Homo sapiens: one gene and its partners. The protein of the gene in region 3 purifies or fractionates together with the protein of the main gene of each other region. This does not show direct contact. Each region holds a gene or a part of one and is shown on either strand. Other genes may lie near its edges.

What was found. Proteins that work in one complex are often made in the same cells at the same time.
Region 1: the proteins of TMEM184A (region 3) and ALDH4A1 purify together in Homo sapiens (affinity purification with mass spectrometry; 2 studies listed by BioGRID and IntAct, with this or other methods). This does not show direct contact.
Region 2: the proteins of TMEM184A (region 3) and ACSF3 purify together in Homo sapiens (affinity purification with mass spectrometry; 2 studies listed by BioGRID and IntAct, with this or other methods). This does not show direct contact.
Region 4: the proteins of TMEM184A (region 3) and DGUOK purify together in Homo sapiens (affinity purification with mass spectrometry; 2 studies listed by BioGRID and IntAct, with this or other methods). This does not show direct contact.

The regions. Positions count from the first base shown.
Region 1 is NC_000001.11:18,875,056-18,878,555, forward strand, and holds part of ALDH4A1 (delta-1-pyrroline-5-carboxylate dehydrogenase, mitochondrial isoform a precursor), read right to left. Parts: intron 2,558-3,500; coding exon 2,361-2,557; intron 2,201-2,360; coding exon 2,153-2,200; intron 1,413-2,152; coding exon 1,260-1,412; intron 449-1,259; coding exon 327-448; intron 1-326. UniProt on the Homo sapiens protein: Irreversible conversion of delta-1-pyrroline-5-carboxylate (P5C), derived either from proline or ornithine, to glutamate. This is a necessary step in the pathway interconnecting the urea and tricarboxylic acid cycles.
Region 2 is NC_000016.10:89,110,852-89,114,351, reverse strand, and holds part of ACSF3 (malonate--CoA ligase ACSF3, mitochondrial isoform 1 precursor), read right to left. Parts: intron 2,261-3,500; coding exon 2,106-2,260; intron 14-2,105; coding exon 1-13. UniProt on the Homo sapiens protein: Catalyzes the initial reaction in intramitochondrial fatty acid synthesis, by activating malonate and methylmalonate, but not acetate, into their respective CoA thioester. May have some preference toward very-long-chain substrates.
Region 3 is NC_000007.14:1,546,206-1,549,705, forward strand, and holds part of TMEM184A (transmembrane protein 184A), read right to left. Parts: intron 2,484-3,500; coding exon 2,314-2,483; intron 1,735-2,313; coding exon 1,537-1,734; intron 977-1,536; coding exon 747-976; 3' UTR 1-746. UniProt on the Homo sapiens protein: Acts as a heparin receptor in vascular cells. May be involved in vesicle transport in exocrine cells and Sertoli cells.
Region 4 is NC_000002.12:73,954,380-73,957,879, reverse strand, and holds part of DGUOK (deoxyguanosine kinase, mitochondrial isoform a precursor), read right to left. Parts: intron 756-3,500; coding exon 640-755; intron 1-639.

The sequences.
Region 1 (3,500 bases), on a different chromosome or scaffold from region 3:
TAGCATGGGACAATCACCTCACTCAGTGGGGCAACACCAGATCCCGCAGAGCCAGTCGAAGACACCAATTCCTAGCCCTGCCCCTAGAGGTTCAGATCCACTGGTCCCCAGTGGCACCCTGGCACCGGCACCACCAGTACCGGCAACAAAGAGCCTGCTGCTGTGGGCCCATGTGGCGAGCCCTGGCTGCCTGTCTGGGCTGAGGGGAGGGGACAGAGAGAAGGTAGGGGCAGCATTATTACTGGGAACCACGTCCAGGAGGTGGGGATGGGGACACGGACAGGACACCCGGAGCACAGCACCAGGGCTGCGGCCTGGCCACTCACTTATCCTGGGAGAACACTGCCCCCGTGAGGCCATAGCTGGTGGTGCTGTCAACCAGCTGCAGCGTCTCCTTGTACTTGTCATCCGGGTAGACGTACACAGACAGTACAGGCCCGAAGATCTCCTAGGAGAGAGGCCCCGGCGTCAGACCCTCCACGGGACCAGGGACCAGGGCCCTGAGCCCTCCCAGTGCCCCTGCTCTGGCTCACCCTCTCCCCAGTCCCTGGGCCTCAGTTTACACTTCAGTGTCTGCAAGAAGGGTCAGGTGTCGCCTCCTCCTGGGTTCCCTCCAGGACAGCAACGTGCCCAGCTCCCTGTCCTGTCCATCCCACCACAAGCCGGCAAAAGATGCAAACATTTTCTGGCTCTCCCTGCCAAACCCACACCCGGAGAACTAAGGGTCCAGGTCCCAGAGGCTTCCAGCAGCAGCTGGCATGAGAGTTGCCCAGAGATACCATTCCCTCCAGAAGGGTTCATGGTTCCCTCTGCCACCAAGGGGCTGGGGGGAAGATCTTCTCAGGCACACTCCAGCCCTGCACTACCAACTTGGGCAAGTGCCTTGACCTCAGTTTCTCATCTGTAAAATGGGAACAGTAACACCCACGTCATCTCAGCCAAGTGCTCAGCCACAGCTGGCCCCACAGTAAAAGTCTATCAGTGTCAGCCATTATGATGGCTGCAGTGGACGTGGTTGCTGAGGGCACTGGAAATGCTCAGACCCCAGCCAGGGTCAAGGACACAGCCCCGGATTTGGAGTTAGGCAGCCTGAGCTCAAAACCTGGCTCTACTCTCTCCCGGTCGGAGGCATTCCCTTTTAGGGTCTCCCTTTAGGGCCTCATCTGTGAAATGGGAGAATGTCTCCAGGAGAACTGTGTGTGTGCTGTGCTCCGGTGGGATTGTCCTCCTCTGGACCCCAGGCTGCCCACCCCAGTCACCTCCTTCATGATGGGCTCCTGAGGGTCCTTGCTCTCCACGATGCAGGGCTCCACAAAGTAGCCCACGGAGTCATCACACTTGCCCCCGGCCAGGATGGTGAGGCTGGGTGAGGAGCGTGCGTGCTCCAGCCACTTCTTGATACGGGCAAAGGACTGGGGTGGGCAGGGAGGAGGGAGGTCTAAGAGGCTGGGAAGGCATCCCTGCGGCAGCCCCCACAACACACTCACCCCGAAACACCTGCACCTGAAGGGCCCAACTCCTGAAACAGGGGCAGGGGTAGGGGACGCCAAGGGCAAAAGCCAGGGTCTGGCTGAGCCACAGCAGAGACAAGGACAGACATGAACACTGTGTGTGTGTGTGTGTGTACACACACAAGTGTACGTGTGTTAGTACTACAGGTGCACTCGCATATAAACACAGACACACATCAATCAATGCATATATAGGCATATGCATGGTCACATGTCTAAGCATGTAGGGATCTGCATGCCTTCTCCATGTACATGCGTGTGGGTGGACTTATCGACATATGCGTGTGTGTGCTTATGTGCAAATGGATATGTACGTGTTTATATGGAAAGACCTACATGTGGAGCCACACGGAGCCCTATATGAACACATTCACAAACACACGTGTACATGCACTCATGCAAATGCTATTAGGAGCTCGCTGAGCCTGGTTCCAGGGTGGCCGCAAGATGAGCTCTTGTCTGGCTACGGCTGATTCTGCCCTTTCTGAAGCTGGAGGTGCGTGTGTGGCTGCTGAGCTGCCTTGATCAAAGCAGTGGGGCTGGGTCATGCCCTGGGTCAGGGTACCCTGTATCTCTTCCTCCCTCTTCCACCCACTCCAGGGCTTGCCCCCACCCAGGAACGCCCACTTCCCACCCCGTACCTTGGCATCAATCACTGCAGAGAAGAAGGTCCCAAAATCCTCTGCAGGCTGGAGGCAAGGGAGGCGCCAGAAGAGACGAGTCACTGCAGGCCGAGACCAAGGGAGACCCCTCCCCGCACACCCCAGCCCCGGCTGCAGAGGAGCCTCCCAGGGACCCAATCCCATCAGCCCCCCGCTGGGCCGCGGCGGGGGTGACGGTGCCACTCACGTCGCCCACTTTGATCCGACTGTGCTCCTCCAGCAGCCGCCCTTTGATCTGCGGCCACAGCGAGTGCGGCACGTAGAGACGCGAGCACGCGGAACACTTCTGGCCACCGTACTCGAAGGCTGAGCGGAGGGTCCCGCTCACCACGCTCTCCACGTCGGCCGAGCGGTGCACGAAGTGGAAGTTCTTTCCGCCGCACTCTACAGGGGTCGGGGGTGGGGAAATGACCAGAGGAGCTGGCTCCCCCGGTTGCCCAGGGGCCCAAAACACCACCTACGCCATCCATGGCCCGGGACCAACACGAGCACGGAGCAGCCCAGAGCGGGCGGAGGCTCAGAGTGAGCGCTGGCCAACATCCCAGAGACCCACGGGCCAGGCCCATTCTCCCACTCCACAGATGAGGAAACTGAGGCCCAGGGAGGGGTGAAGGGCATCAGAGGTGATCAGGTCCAACAGCCCCATTACACTGATGGGAAAACTGAAACTACCCAACACAACAGCAGAGGACAGATGAGAACCCAAGGCCCCCGAGAGCCAGCCATTCCCAGAAGTGGGCACAGCTTTTTGTGAGGTTCTCCTGAGCCCTCGTCCACGAGGGACATTGGAGCCTACCCTATGTCGGCTGCCAGGGTTGGGCCCCTCCTCCCCACGCGTGCTGGAAACCGCTCCCCCATTTCCCCAGTGGGAGGGAGCTTCAGACAGGTCACTTCACTCTCCCGGCCTCAGTTTCCTCCCTCCGTGGGAAGCAGCAGCTAACAGCAGCTGAAAGCACTTAACAGCTGCCCAACTCTGGACGAAGTACGCTGTGCTTTGTCTGACCAAAGCCTCACAACAACCTCCCATTACTATCCCCAATTTCAAGCCAAGAAAACTGAGGCACAGAGAGATGAAGTCACCTGCTCCAGGTTGGAAAGTGGTAACCAGCGGCCTCTCTCCCTCAGGGAGGCAGGGAAGGAGGCTCTGAGAGCAGAAAGCCACACAGCTGACCCTGAGGAGCGCTCACCTTCCCTGACACCCCCATCCGAACTCCCACCAGTCCAGGAACAGGGTCCAGACTCCCCAGTGGGCCCCAATTCACGCCACAGAGAAACATGCTGGACCACCGGTCCCAGCTCTGCTGGTCACGTGCTGGCTGCAACTCTC
Region 2 (3,500 bases), on a different chromosome or scaffold from region 3:
TGAGACCATCAGCCTACGCGGCACAACCAAAGGCAGGTTTAGCCCCTTGGGACGTGGCTCTCGCGTGCAAAGGTGGCAGGTTTAGCCCCTCAGGAGGCGGCCCTTGCTTGCAAAAGTGGCAGCTCCTTCACGAGTGCAGGAGCCCCAGGCCGTGGGTACAGCACCACTGTGCGACACCCGGGACCAACGCTGCAGTCTGCGCTACGGCGTGACTTTGTTTTTTGAAAACGATCTGTTGGGTGTATTTTAGAAGGAAGCAGGTCCAACAGCTAATGAGGGTAAACAATGTGCTTAGGGTCCGCGGTGTCCCCTGCAAAGTTCCTGCGCTGTTCACAACCACGCTCAAGAACAGCAGTGACCGTGCAGCTGCCGACCACGGAGCTGATCACGGGTGAACAGCCACGGCGCTGCAGGCTGCGGCCAGGCACATCCGGGGACTACAGCCGGCTCAGCTTGCAGGCTCTGCAGCAGAACGCGGACATGGGTGAATGGCCGCGGCACCCAAGGGGTGGGGCCGGGCACACCCAAGGGGCTCAGAACCACCCGCAGAACTGCAGCCATCTTGGCCCACAGGGTCAGCTCAGGCTTGGCAGGAGAACACGGGCCCTGAGAACTCCGAGTCCCCGCGCTCTCACACAGCATTTCCCGCAGCCTCACGGGCAGTAGGGAAGGCGCTTTTGTTTGCGGTCTGAGCGGAGTGGTCCCTGCTGCTGCCCCTGCTTTACGAGGAGGCACCACTGACAGGACCCCCGCTGGGAGATCCAGATGGCCGAGGTCTCATTGCCTCTGTCACCCCAGAAATCACCTGATCCTCTCCTTCACTGACCTCGTTCTTGCCCTTGGTTCCTTAGATTTGGTAAAACGTTGTGCTCACCCTGCTCAGCTTGGGGCCTGCCCAGCCCCAGGGTATCCCAGCAGTAGCAGCAGCAAAACCATGGGCTCCGGTGGCCTCACAGAAAAGGGGCAAGGGAACGGCAAAGAGAGCGAAGCGGTTCAGACATGTGCCTTGGACAACCCGGAATTCTCTCCAGGAACAAAGGTGCCGCTTCCCTGTGCACTTCCTGGGGACTGGGAGGAGCGCGCGGCAGCCACAGACACACACATCCCACTGGAAACTGGATGGCAGTGGAGCCTTCAGTTCCTGCAGTGCACCCTCCACGCCACCCCTCCCTCTCACAAAAAGAAAAAATACCCCACCCACGACTCTGCTGGAGGTGCGGGCCTGTGATGCGTGTGAAGACTCACTGAGCCACACGTGTGCGTTTCCAGTTAGTGAACCACACCTCAACAGCCACGAGGGAAAAGAAACGTTCCCACGCCTGCAGGTTCATGGGAGAGTGCAGAGCAAACACGCCCCTGGGTGGCCCAAAAGACCAGCTTGTCCTGGGAGGGAGGGGTTTATCCAGGGAGCTGGGAGGGGAGGAGCGGGGCTGAGAGGAAAAGCAGCAGAACGTGCCCCAGGCAGGAGGCCTCACAGGGCTGCCCACGAAGGCAGAGAGACTGCATAGGAGAGGCAGGCGCCGTGGGACATGTGGGCAGATGAAGCAGGAGCAAGCGGGTCAGCTCACTGTCCTCACCCTTGTCCTTCAGACGCCATGACAGAGAGAGAGAGAGACGGACAGGAGAGAGAGCAGACAGACAGACGGAGACAAAGACAGATGGAGAGATAGAGACAGATGGAGAGACAGGAGAGATAGAGAAAGAGAAGACGGAGAGACAGATGAAGAGCGATGGAGAGAGACAGAGAGAAGACAGAGATGGAGAGTCTGACAAGAGAGACAGAGAAGACAGATAGATGGAGAGATGGAGAGAGAGAGACAAAGAGAGACAGAGAGAGATAGAGAGACAGAGTGTGACAGAGAGAGCGATACAGAATCCAGGCAGCTATCGACGTGGAAGAGATTACAGATATACATACAGACGGGTAGAGAGAGAGAGAGACAGTTAGAGAGGTAGAGACGGAGACGGGTAGAGAGAGAGGGAACATTGAAAGGAAATGGAAAGCACTGCTTCCCAGAACTTAGTAGGAGTGATTTATTAGAAATAAGTCGTATCTGTTGATCTTTAAGACTTTCTGAACGAGAAAGTGGGCTCTTTTCACTTACCTAATTTTTTCTTCACAAACTGCACGCAAGAAATCCTGGGCGTGCGGCTGGGTAAAATGCCTGTCGTAGTACTCCATCAGCTTGGTGTATATTGTAGGCACTGCCATAAAGACATTGATCCGCGGCGTTTCAGAACTTAAGAACTTTTCCCAAACCTACGAAGGAAAGGAAGCACTCGGTAGGAAGATGAGCAGGCACTGGGGCCCGTGGCGGAGGCTCCTGGCTCCAGGCACAGCGTTCTCATGGTTCACATTCAAGAGTCTGCAGCGCCTCCCTTCTAAAAGGGGTGCCTCAAACTCTGACCCCTTCCCACAGAAGCCATGTTGCGCGGGACAGCTGCGTCTGGCCTGTGAGGGGAAGAGCAATCGTGAACAGAGCTAGAAAAGGGCTTCGGGATCTGTGGCCTGGAGAGACGTGAGTGGTCAGGCTCTTCCAGCTACACAGAGAGGGCGGATGTACACCTTGGGGAAGCTGGCAGGAGGGCCTGGCTGCCCGCAGACCTGAAGTCAGCATGCTTCCCAGTATGGACAGGCATGCAGTGACTAGCGAACGGGTGAAGTCTTTTATTTAAAAGAGTCATGTGAATTTTATATTTTACTCCATAATAAACATTTCTTGCTTACATATAAATACGTTTTAAGTTCCTCACTCGTTAGCGGGTTCTCGCGTCGCCCATAAAGCTTCAGGAAGAGCTGGTGAGCCGCATTCCTTCCATGGCCCTCTCTACCCGCGGTGTTCCACACGGAGCACCGAAGGGTGTGGCGGAGGGAGGAGGGCACTCTTCGTGCTGTGGGGTCAGCACCTAAGGGAGGCCCAGGACACACAGGACAGATCTCGCCCACACGGCGTTGAAACTGGGGTCGACGGATGCCGATGCCACAGTCCAGCCCCAGCCCATCTCATCTCCTCACTGGACTGCAGTGACGAGTGCCTCACCGCAGCTGCCTGGCAGAGAAAGGCAGGAATCTCCGGGGAAGAAATAATATCATTCTTTCAAAGACAAAGACTGGAACCCTTCAAAGTCACAAAGCATGTAAGGACACAAAGATGTGATCCCCAACTGAAGGGAAGAAGTCTCAGGAAATCCAAACGTCCGAATCACCAGACAAGGCCCTTCAAATCACTGCAATAAGCAGATTAAGGAATTTCAAAGAAAAGATGAACAACGTGGGGAAGATGGAGAATTGCAAAGAGAAGTGGAACTGCAAAAAATCATAAAACTGAAAAACACAAGATCCAAAATGAATTCATTCAATAGACCTAATAACAAACAAGACGCAGCAGAAAAGAGGAAAAAAGTCAGACACAGTCAACGGGGGTGATCTAGGCTGACCCACAGACGGGAAAGCAAAGACACAGGCGACCAGAGTGCGGGAGACAGCAGCACCGCGGAGC
Region 3 (3,500 bases):
GGAACAGAAGCCAAGACCCGGTAGAAAATCCAAGGTGTTTAAATATAAATAAGAGCGATTCCCACAGCCCCACGGTGCTGGCCAGCCTCACAGGTGCCCGCTGGTTCTGTGACCCATCCCAGGCACACGCTCCCCTGGCTGGGCGCCTGGCCAGGGCTCCCCTGTGGCTGGCGTGTGGAGACACGTGGGCCCTTCTCCACGTGCCCACGAGGGCCGTAGCAGGCTCCAAGGAGGCCCAGCCCCGGCCAGCCTGTGTGGACCCCGCCGGCCTGCGGCGCCCGGAGCTGCTGACTGTGTCAGAGCCCGGCTGCCCAGCGCCCCGGCGCCCCTCCCTCCAGCTGCCCAGCCTGGGATCCGTCCGCTGTCTGTCTCCTGAACCAGGGAGTCTGACCCACTCACAGCTCCCATGGGGTCCGTGCAGCCAAGGCCCCGCAGCCACACTCACTCTCCGCCCCACAGTGGCTCCTGGGGCTGATGGCTGGGTGATCCCAGGGGGTCCCCAGGCTCTTCCGATTGGCTCAGGTGCCCTCTCCTGCGGTGGCGGGCCCACCTGGGTGCCTGCCAGGGCCATCAGGTGCCCTGACCCCCTGGCTGGAGGGAGGATGGGAAGTGGGCTCCGAGGGCCTCACAGGTGGGCTCTCAGGAGAGGCCCCACCTTTGGCAGGAGTTGGTGGGTGGGGGGACCCTGTTCTTCCCCAGAGGCCTGGGCAGCCTGGGTCCCTACAGCACTGGCAGCCCAGGCCCCCCTACAGGTCCTCCGAGGGGATCAGCATCCGCTTCTCCAGGCTCCGGCTCTTCCTGCTCCCGCCGGAGCCGCCGCTGGGGTGGGTGCCGGGCCTGGGCGCCTCGTGCGTGGCCTGCTGCGTGTAGTGCTGGTAGGCGGGGGAGAAGTTGTGGATGGCGTCCTGCACGATGTCCTGGGGGCTCACTGTCTCCCTGATGCCGCTGGAGATGCTCTGCATGGGTGCCGGGGGGGCTGGGGGAGGGCAGTGTATGAGCCCCACCATCCCCCCTGCACTCCAGCTCCCCGGACAAGTCCCCTCCCAGGATGCCCAGGGCTGTAGCTCCTGCATGTCCAGGTCTGGCCTCGGCCAGCAGAGGGTGGCCCCAGACCCCTGGACCCCAGCCCAGCTTGCTCCACCCAGCACCGGGCCCGTCCCTGGCCAGACCCCTGACAAGGACCACGTCCCCTAGAGCTTCCGAGGGGCTCCAAGCAGCGGAGTACGCCTTTGGCTGGCCTCGGGTGGGCACCCTGGTCTCTCCACAGTGACTGATGAGAAGCCGGCAGGCCACAGGCTGTCTCCGCCCTAATAGGGGGTGTGCCTGGCAGGGGACACCCATCCCCCATCACCATTGGGGTCCGGGACCGCCTGGACCCCACACAGCCCAGGTGCCTGTCCGGAGCCGGATGCCCTTTGCCCGTCTCCCTGCCCAGCGAGCTGGCATTCCTGGGCCTCGAGAATGGCACGGACACAGACACGGTGCCCGGGGCAGGGCTGTGCGCTCCGGGTGCCCCAGCTGGAAGGCAGGGTGTACCTGGTGAATTCTCCTTCTTCTCTGCGTACACCTGGCAGGGGAAGGCATAACGCAGGGCCACGGAGGCGAACAGCATCTCCACGCAGATGATGAAGTTCTGGTAGCCGGCGGCCAGCGTGCCAGCCCCCAGCTTGTTCCCGCCGCTGGTCTCCACCTCCGGGATGACCCCGCACCGCTCCAGGATGGCCAGCAGCAGCCCTGCGGACGCCACGGCCGCTCAGCCCCAGCCCCAGACGGGGTCTGCAGGGGAGGAAGAGGCCCCAGACCCCGCAGCGGCTCCTCTGACGGGTGCTGTGACCCCGTCCGTGTAGTCTCGTCCCACCCCAGGAGACTGAGGTTCAGGGGGGCAGGGCGCCTCCAAAGTCGGGGGTCTCGGCACAGCAGGTGCTCAGGAGCTCTCCCGGGCCCGCCCTGCCACTCCAGCCCCAGATCCTGGGCCCGTGCCCTGTCTGGTGGCCATCCTCCTCTGCCAAAGTGGGCTGTCAGTGCCCTGGCCTGGCCCAGGGCCCAGTGGGGGCCAGGATTCAGGAAACACCTGGTGTGGCCTCTGTGCGACCTCTCTCCACCTGCTGGCGGGACCTCCCCACTCCCCCGTGCTGGCGGGACCTCTCCACTCCCTCATGCCCGCAGGTTCTACCCTGGCTTCCAGCTGACCTGTGCTGCAGCTGGAGAAACTGAAGCACGTGGGGGCTGGGGAAAGGGGTGTGAGGTGACCCCAGGCTCACTGGACTGCAGCCCCCACCTCGGTAGCACCCCTGCCCCACCTGCCCCACACACCTTGCCAGAACGACAGGAAGATGACGGCTTTGATGGTGAGGAACTTGAGGACGGGCTGGAAGGGCCGCAGGAGCTCCCTGGTGGTGAAGTAGAAGAGGAACAGGGCGTAGAGGGCGAGGCTGACGGAGGCGTTGTAGATGAGGGTCACATAGAGGTAGCCGCTGCGGACACTAGGACAGACGGGGGCTGTGGTCAGGGCGGTCCCATGACCCCGCCACTGTCCCCACCCTAGAGCCACCGCCGCTGCACCCTCAGCCTGGTCCCCACCCTGAGCTTGGGAGCATGGGCCCTGCAGGGATCCTGCCCCGATCTGATCCTCACTCCAGGGCCTGCAGGAGAGCGTGGGGAGCTGGGGGTGGCTGGGGGGCCTATGCAGGGGTAGGGCAGGGACGTGGCCGTTCTCCCTACCGGCCCTGCTCCTCCTCGTCCCAGGATCCTGTCCACTGCTCAGGCAGCATCCAGGCTGCCTCTGTCGGAACGCCACCTCCCAACCCCGTCCACCTGGCCACTGCCTGAAGATCCTCTGTGTGGTGGACACACAGGTGTCGTTCCCGTGTGAGTGTGTGCACATAGGTGTGTGTGCATGTATGTCGTGTGCACACAGGTGGGGTGCGCTGTGTGTGTGCACATATTGCGTGCATGTGAGTGTACATACATGTGTGGTGGTGTGTGCACGGTTTGCGCATGTGCTGTGTGCATGTGTGAACATGTGATGCACGTGTGTGATGTGTGCGCACAGGTGACAGCACATGTGTCCCCGTGTGTGAGCATCTGTGTGGTGTTGGTGAGCACCTTGGACCTTCGCAGGGGTCCAAGGGGTGAGCTGTGTGGACCTTCGCAGGGGTCCTCCTTGTGCTGGGTGGCTGCCTGTCTGTTCAGCCAACAGGTCGGGGTGGACCTTGGTCCCCTTGGCCCAGGTGCCCTTAATGCCAAGAGTGCTCAAGGCTGGGCGGGGGCTGGGGCCATCACTGCCTGGCCAGAAGCCCTGGGGTCCTCGGCGCAGATGCTGGCACAGACGCTAGACTCACCCCAGCCGTGTCCTGTGAGGGGAGGTCCAGGCCCCCGGCCTTGGCAGGCACCGAGGTCCTTGTGGAGAAGAAGTGGGTACCTGTCTTGGGCGGGGCCCCTAGCCCAGCCGGACGCCAGGCCTGCCTTGTTGGGCCCCACCGCTGGGCCCCAGGGGACCC
Region 4 (3,500 bases), on a different chromosome or scaffold from region 3:
AGGGAGGACAGGCAGAAACCAGGAATGCCAACTTAGTAATACTGACAATTTCTCTAACATTTTCAGCCCTTCATGCTGAGCCAACTATCACCATCAATCACAATGTTCAGTCTAGGGAAATGTTAAGAAACAAAGAAAAAGCTGGAGAAATACAATCTAATAAAAAGGCCCTTGGAATGTAAAGATTATATTCAATATTAAACTTCTTCTGGGCATCTCACTCTGTCGCCCAGGCTGGAGTACAGTGGTGCGATCTCGGCTCACCGCAATCTTTGCCTCCCAGGTTCAAGCGATTCTCCTGCCTCAGCCTCCCGAGTAGCTGGTATTACAGGCGCCTGACACCACACCTGGCTAATTTTTCTATTTTTAGTAGAGACAGGGTTTCACCATGTTGGCCAGGCTGGTCTTGAATCCTGACCTCAGGTGACTGCCTCAGCCTCCCAAAGTGCTGGGATTACAGGCGTGAGCCACGGTGTCCAGCAATATTAAACTTCTGAGTTGGAAAATGCTTGACATTTCCAACCATTTCCAGTATATTCTGAACCTTCCTACAGGGGGCTGCATGCTGAACTTGTTTTTAACAACTGGCTGTTGGGAGCCAGGTCTCTGTCTCTGATACATTCTTTTCTCCCCACTTACTTCGTTGTCTTGTGAATAAGCCAGGCTTCGTGTTGGCCATGCAGCTGCTCTAGATAGGCCAGCTCAATTCCTTTCTCCTCCTCCCTGGCCCTCTGGTACAGTCTCTTCAAACAAACCTAAAAGACAGTCCCCAAGCCCTGATGAGCTCTTTGCTGTTTTGGCTGCTACAATGCAGTCTTCGGGGGCTCTGAGGCCCACCCATAATGTCTATCTTGGGCATTACAAGCCATGCCTTTGCTTCTGCTGTCTTGTTTTCTTATGCAATCAGAGGATCTACACCATTCTTTTCCCATCTCCACCTTAAACCTGCTCTTCCTCTGAAGTATCCTAAGTCGGTTAATGATGAACATCATCCATCCAGTCATCCAAGCCACGGACCTGGAATTTTCCTTGTTTTTCCTTCTCCCTACTATATCTGGGAAGTCACTCAATTCTCTTTCATCTCTCTAGAATGTTCTCTCCTTGCCTCTCCTCTCACCTCTGCCCTGGTCGGGTCCTCTTTACTTCTTACCTGGATTATGGCAAGAGCCTTCTGGTTCTGCCTCCTGGAGGCAGGGAAGCATATGGACAGAGTACAGGCCTTAAGGTCAGAAAGTCCAGGAGTAAATTCCTGCCTTCATAAGGTACTAGCAGTGCAGTCCTTGTGGGCTTCTATTTCCTCATTGTCTACCCATCCACAGGTCACTGAGGTAAGTTGTATTGAGCTCCTGGCAAAAGCTGTTCCCTCCTTCCAGTTTTTCCCCTTCACTCCACCCGTCTGTAGTACGGCAATATAATGACATGACTTTCCTTGCTGAAAATACTTCACAGGCTCTTTACCGCCTACAGCCATAGCCCCAGGGTTCAAAGCAGTATGTATGAATAGCATTGCATTTATAAAATGTTAGGTAATTTGAAATATCTCTTTCATGTCATACCAAACATTCACTCAGGAATAGAATGTAAAATTTGCACAGGTCAAAGATAAAACAAAGAAGTGGAAAAACAAGTGAGGCTTGAGACTAACTCTCCTCCCCCGCTGCTTTGCAGAGTGTACATAATTCTATTCTGCATTCATCTGGTAGTGAAGTTTGATGCACACTGGCTCAGAAAATGACATCTTCTTTACCTGTCACACAAAGCTACCCCTCCTACTTCTCAACTGCCTTAGCTCTTCCCCTGGACTCACTGCTTTAGCCAGATTTGACCTCTTTCCTGGGGAACAGGCCAGGCTCTTTCACACCTCAAAATTTTTGCTCCAAATGTTTGTTTTGACTGAATTATCCTCAGTCCTCTCTCTGCTTGACAAACATTTCATTATTCAATATCATCTGTCCTGGAAGAACAGATGGATTAACCCACTGATTTAGGACTTCACTCTTTTTTTTTGAGACAGAGTCTTGCTCTGTTGCCAGGCTGGAGTGCAGTGGCGCGATCTCAGCTCACTGCAACCTCTGCCTCCCAGGTTCAAGTGATTCTCTTGCCTCAGCCTCTCAAGTAGCTGGGACTACAGGCGGGAGCCACCACGCCCAACTAATTTTTTGTATTTTTAGTAGAGATGGGGTTTCACCATGTCGGCCAGGATGGTCTCGATCTCTTGGCATCGTGATCTGCCCGCTTCGGCTTCTCAAAATGCTGGGATTACAGGCGTGAGCCACCGTGCCCGGCCAGGACTTCCCTCTTTCAATAACTTACTTAAGAAATGAAAACTTAATTTCCAAATGTAGTACACAATAATCCCAAAGACTTGGGAGTCTTTGCTGTTTCCCTCTTATCTTACCTTTTCTCTAAGGAAATGAAATTATAGAAACAAATTTTATTAATGATCAAAAGGTATATGCACTTGCAATTATATACTGCCAGACTGCCTCCTTAGAGGTTAACCAATTTATATTCCCACCAGAAAGGTAGCTTTAGGATTTCTAAGCATAGCAAAGCTATCATCTCATTTTCCTTTCTGAGAAAAAAAATGTTGTCTGTTTCGTGAAAATAAATTTTTTTAAAATGTGACTTTATGTTTCCAAGTACACACACAAAGGCAGAACAATTCTTTTTAGGAAAGCTATTTATAATTATTCATTCACTGCTTGCAGACAAACCTTGACACTAACATTGATCTATTAAAATAAGCTAACATATTTCTATTTACTATTAATTTCCTTAACAGAGCAAATGGATTTCCCTGAGAAGTCTAAGTCTTAACTGGTGGCAGTATTGAGTGGGGAAAAAAAAAGAGGTCGAAGTAAACTCCTACTATGAGCATTTGGCATAACTCTTGCTTTACTGATATCGCTATAACAAATTCTATTTAAAAAAATCCCGTGCAAACAGTGCTTTAGTCTGACCCCTCTTCATCTCAGTCCTCATGAGGAAGACACACCTGAATGTGAACAGGAAAGATAGTGTAGCTACAAGTGGCGAGGGAGAGACCCTTTACTGGTCTTCTTAACCTGTCCCACCCAGGAAGAAGAACTGCTGCTCTGCTTGCTTGGAGTCAGAAACAGAAAATGGAAAGTGACTGCTAGTGGGTCTTTTCACTATGCCTCTCAAGCCCAAACCCAGGTGCCATTTGTCCCATGCACCTCCTGCATGCTGTCCCCATGCTGTGCCAGTCCCAGGTAGGGCCTGGCTTTTTGATGTACATTGATCAGCTGCACTCTCTTGATTCCATGGGGCTGGCTAGGAACACTGAGGCCTAGCTATTTCTCTTTTGAGTTTTAAAATTGTTAGCTTGCTTGTGTTTTAAAAAAAATTTTTAGAGATGGGGTCTCCCTATGTTGACCATGCTCGTCTTGAGCTCCTGGCCTCAAGCAATCCTCCCATCTCAGCCTCCCAAAGTGCTGGGATTACAGGCGTGAGTCACCGTGCCCGGCCTGAGTTGC